2 separate regions of the Homo sapiens genome follow, and region 2 is linked to region 1. A link means that fine-mapping ties the variant in region 1 to the expression of a gene that starts in the linked region. Tissue or cell type: cerebellar hemisphere. Region 1 holds a variant in brackets; the other region holds the start of a gene. All regions are shown on one strand. Distances are from middle to middle.

Region 1 (2,685 bases):
TTTATTTATTTATTTATTTATTTATTTATTTATTTATTGAGATGGAGTTTTGCTCTTGACACCCAGCTGTAGTGCAATGGCACGATCTCAGCTCACTGCACCCTCTGCCTCCTGGGTTCAAGTGATTCTCCTGCCTCAGCCTCCCTAGTAGGTGGGATTACAGGCACCCGCCGCCACGCCTGGCTAATTTTTGTATTTTTAGTAGAGAGGAGGTTTCACCATGTTGGTCAGGCTGGTCTCAAACTGCTGACCTCAAGTGATCCGCCAGCCTTGGCCTCCCAAAGTGCTGGGATATCAGGCGTGAGCCACCGCGCCTGGCCCATCTACTTATTTTTAACTGATACTTGAAAGAAGGAATCATTATTACTAATTATAGTATACAATATTTTCTGTGCATCTTAGTCATAGACACTTTATTGATATTGGATTGAACTTTTCATTGAGTTTCTATGAAGGATAGTGTGAAGTGGAATGGGGACTAAGACCTGGGAAGTGTCTACATTCAAGGGTCTTCCATGTGGGTGCTGGTGAGAGGCACAGGGGTGAACAGGGTTAGCAGGGTCACAGCAGAGCAAGAACAGGGCTGAGGACGAAGCCCTGGGAGCAACAGAATTTGTGGGGTGGAAATAAGAGTCCGTGAAGGAGGCCAGAAAGTCAGGAAGGGAATGCCAGAGAGGAGCAGACCTCAGGAGCTGCATAAGGGAGGGAACTGAATTGCATCAAGAGTGGTGTGAAAAGCTAAAGGAAGACTATGTTAGATAGGAAATAAGAAGATAGTGATTTAAAAAATTAGGAAGTCCATTAGCTCAGTATGCCTGTAGTCCCGGCTACTCAGGGGGCTGGGGTGGAAGGATTGCTTGAGCCCAGGAGGTCGAGGCTGCAGTGAGCTGTTACTGTGCCACTGCACTCCAGTCTGGGTGACAGAGTGAGATGCCATCTCTACTTTAAAAAAAAAATTAGAAAGTCCCTAGTTATCAGGGAAATGCAAATTTAAACCACAACGAGCTACAATTTTCCCTCCCCGACTAGAACGGTTAGAATGAAAATTAGATAATATCAAGCGTTGGCAAAATACAGTGAAATTAGGCCAGGCGCAGTGGCTCATGCCTATAATCCCAGCACTTTGGGAGGCCGAGGCGGGCGGATCACGAGGTCAGGAGATCGAGACCATCCTGGCTAACACGGTGAAACTCCATCTCTACTAAAAATACAAAACCTTAGCCAGGCGTGGTGGCGGGCGCCTGTAGTCCCAGCTACTCGGGAGGCTGAGGCAGGAGAATGGTGTGAACCCGAGAGGGGGAGCCTGTAGTGAGCCGAAATCACGCCACTGCACTCCAGTCTGGG[C/T]GACAAGAGTGAGACTCTGTCTCAAAAAAAAAAAATGTAGCGAAATTAGACCCTCCACACATGGATAAGAATGTAAAGCAGTGCAGCCACTTTAGAAAAGTCTGGCAGTTGCTCAAATGATTAAACAGTTATCATATGACCCAGCAATTCCACTCCTGTTATATACCCAAGAGAATTGAAAACATGTTCACAAAAAACGTATACATGAATGTTCATAACAGCACTATTCATTATAGTCCAAAAGTGTAACAATCCAAATGTGCATCAATGGATGAATGGATAAACAAAATGTGGTCTTTCCACACAGTGGAATATTATTCAGCCATAAAAAGGAATGACGTGCTGACACATGCCACAGCATGGATGGACTTGGAAAACATTAAGCCGAGTGGATGAAGCCAGTCACAAAAGGCCATACATGGTATGATTCCATTCATATGAAAGTACAGAGCAGGGAAATCTACAGTGAAGGAAAGCGGATTAGCGGTTGTTTAGGGTCAGGGGAGGAGGATGGGAGTATGGGGAGTGAAAGCTAAAGGGTGTGGGGTTCCTTTTTGTGGTGAGAGAAACATGCTAGAGACCATTGAATTGTGAACTTCACATTGGTGAAGTGTATGGTATATGAAACATACAGCTCAGTGAAGCTGTTTAAAAAATTAGGAAGTCACCAGTAGCTTTGAGGAAGCATTTTTAATCAAGTACGAGTGATGAGGCCAGGATCCTGGGTGTGGTATGTTGAGGGTGATTGGGAGTTGCAAAGTGATGAAGGGGAAGCAATGCTGAGAGGTTATTTCAGGTTTGAGAAGATGTGAGGCTGCTTGGAGAGCAAGAGGAGGTAACCTGTCAGTGGAGAGGAAGGGGGTCGTCAGGGAGACAGTGACGGTTGATGGAGACAGGGCCAAAGGACATTCTTAGGGGAGGCACAGGTGGCAAGTGGAGCTTTTGAAGAGGAGAGAGGCCAGTTTCCCCCTAAAACACGAGGGAAAGAAAGAAGAATCCTGAGAGCTCATCGAAAACAGGAACCACATCAGATTTGTTTTTGTAATCTCCGCATCTATCTCAATTAATGGGAAATATACATTTATTCATTCACTAAACATTTAATGAGGGCAGACTGTGCCAGGCACTACTTCCCTGGCTAGTGATCCCACAGCAGCCCTCACAGACAAAACCAGCACACAGGCTGTGGAAGAGTTGTTAGTATTCACCAAACGTCCATGAGTGCCTCTATTTCCCAGCTTTCCTTGCAGTGAGGCTGAATCCACATGACTAGTTCTGGCCAATGGCCTGTGGGTGCATCACTTTCAGGTTGAGGCAATAAAGAGCCAGTGTTTGGCCTCC
Region 2 (2,685 bases), 520 kb before region 1:
TTCTTTTCTTTTTTTTTTTTTTGAGACGGAGTCTCGCTCTGTCGCCTAGGCTGGAGTGCAATGGCGCGATCTCGGCTCACTGCAACCTCCGCCTCTCGGGTTCAAACGATTCTCCTGCCTCAGTCTCCCGAGTAGCTAGGATCATGGGACTACAGGCGCCTGCCACCATTCCCGGCTAATTTTTGTATTTTTAGTACAGACGGGGTTTCACCATATTGGACAGGCTGGTCTCGAACTCCTGACCTTATGTTCCGCCCGCCTCAGCCTCCCAAAGTGCTGGGATTACAGGCGTGAGCCGCCCGGCCCGGAGTTTTCTATTCTTTTTTTTTGAGACGGAGTCTCGCTCTGTCGCCCAGGCTGGAGTGCAGTGGCGCCGTCTCGGCTCACTCCGAGCTCCGCCTCCCGGGTTCACGACATTCTCCTGCCTCAGCCTCCCGAGTGGCTGGGACTACAGGCGCCCCCCACCTCGCCCGGCCAATTTTTTGTATTTTTAGTAGAGACGGGGTTTCACCGTGTTAGCCAGGATGGTCTCGATCTCCTGACCTCCTGATCCGCCCGCCTCGGCCTCCCAAAGTGCTGGGATTACAGGCGTGAGCCGCCGCGCCCGGCCTGGAGTTTTCTTTTTTTTTTTAAGCATCACTTCATATTTCAAGAGCTCTCAGTTCTCCTGAGATTTCTAGGCTCTGTCCAGGATCCCTAAGCCTGTTCACAGTCCTACTTGAAGTTTCTAATCTTTCTTTTCTCATTAACCAAAACTGGAGAGAGGAAAAAGCCCATCATTTTCCCTGGACAGCAGCGCCTACTGGGAGTTTCACCCGCATTAACATGCAAACGACAGGCAAACTCCTAGTCATCCTTCCAAAGACCCTGCTCCACAGCCCTGCCGAGGCCGGTGCGCACCTAGCCCAGCCACTGCCCCTCACGGCCCCCGCGCCGCCCTCACTGAGCAGGGCGGGCAGCGCTGTAAGCGTAACCACTTGGGGCTTGGGGCTTCTGACCCGGGAGTCGGGTGCTGGGTTGAGTGCGAGGCCGACGCCTCTGCCGGGTGGGGAACCCGCCCGCCGGCGAGGAGCGGTCGCGGCCAGGGGCTTCCGCCGACTGGGAGGCCCGGGGCCGGGCCGGAGGGACTCGGAACCTGGAAACGACCAGGCGCGACCCCCAGAGGACTACAGGCGCGGCTTTTCTGGCCGCCGCCCGGTTCCCGCGGGCGACTCCACTCGGCATGCGCGGCGGGGAGCCTCGGCGGTGAGGCGCAAAGCCGCGGGCTCGTGGGACGGCCACCCCTCCGCAAAACCGCCAATGGGCGGGCCCGGGCCGCCGATCGCCCGCCGCGGCTTCCGGTTCCGATGACAGTGGCGCCGGAAGCCGGGGCCGGGGCTGCGGGGCGAGGTGAGAGCGGGCGGGCTTGGGAGCCGGCAGGTGCGGGCCGAGGGCGGGCACAGCGGCCGGCGGAGCTGAGGCGCGCGGCGGGGAAAGCTCGGCCGGCCTCCCGGGCCCCAGCCTTCTCCAGAACCCCTGCTACCCACGACTAAGCCCCGAACAATCTGCCCTTGGGCTTGTTCTCTTCGCAGTTGTCGGCCCTGGGCCGGGAGCTGGAGTCCCAGACTCATAGGTCCCGGCCCAGCCCCCGAAGAGCCGCCTCAGCCGGGGGGAGTTGCTCGGACTCAAACGTCCAGTCCTCGTGCGACCGCGCTGGGTCGGAAGTGAGCAGGTGCGCACCGGGCTCGGCAGGGCTATGGAGCAGGGTCTTTGGAAGGATGACTAGGAGTTTGCCTGTCGTTTGCATGTTAATGCGGGTGAAACTCCCAGTAGGCGCTGCTGTCCAGGGAAAATGATGGGCTTTTTCCTCCCTCCAGTTTTGGTTAATGAGAAAAGAAAGATTAGAAACTTCAAGTAGGACTGTATAGTAAAAAAAAAAAAAAAATGGAGGAGGGCGATATGACACGGTAACTGGTGTGAGGGTGGGGCGGAGGGGTCAGTATTAGATACTGTGGTCTAGCAGAGCATCTCTGAGGACGGGACATTTGCGTTGAGACCCAAATTAGGAGGCAGGCTTAGGAAGATACGGGAAGAGAGTGGTCCAGGCAGCGGGAACAGCCAGTGTGAAGGCCCTAGGGCAGAAATCAACTGAGAGTATAGTCAAGGAACAGAAAGCAAGCTAGTGTGGCTAAAGTATGGTAAGAAAGGGAAAGAGTGGTAGGAGATGAGGTCGGATAATTGGGGTTTGGTCACATAGAGTCTGTAGGTCAGAGAGAGGAATGTGGAGTTTTTTCTAAGTACAGTGGAAATCTTTTGGTTTTAAGCAGAGGAGTGACATGTAGGGTAGAGAGTGGATGGAGGTCGCGGCTGCAAAAGCATAAGAATTGGCTGGGCACGGTGGTTCACGCCCGTAATTCCAGCACTTTGGGAGGCTGAGACTGGCAGACGGCTTGAGCTCAGCACTTCAAGACCAACCTGGCCAACATGGTGAAACCCTGTCGCTCCAAAAAATTAGGCTGGGCGCAGTGGCTCACGCTTGTAACCCCAGCACTTTGGGAGGCCAAGGCGGGAGGATCACTTGAGGCCAGGAGTTCAAGACCAGCCTGGCCAACATGGTGAAACCCCGTCTCTACTAAAAATACAAAATTTAGCCGGGTGTGGTGGCAGGTGTCTGTAATTCCAGCTACTTGGGAGGCTGAGGCAGGA

The links. PIP is the estimated chance that this variant, and not a neighbour inherited with it, causes the effect.
Region 2: it holds the start of RMND5B, and the variant in region 1 is fine-mapped to the expression of RMND5B in cerebellar hemisphere (GTEx, PIP above 0.99).

Annotation. Positions count from the first base shown.
Region 1 is chr5:178,647,735-178,650,419 of GRCh38, forward strand. No RefSeq gene overlaps it. Among named protein-coding and RNA genes, the nearest start is that of CLK4, 22 kb to the left of the region's middle. The variant C/T (reference allele first, on the strand shown) is at 1,345.
Region 2 is chr5:178,129,666-178,132,350 of GRCh38, forward strand. RMND5B (required for meiotic nuclear division 5 homolog B) reads left to right here and starts at 1,349. Exons shown (of 11, transcript NM_022762.5): 1 at 1,349-1,389; 2 at 1,572-1,711. RefSeq lists enhancers at 1-522, 523-1,174, 2,453-2,685 and a silencer at 906-1,495.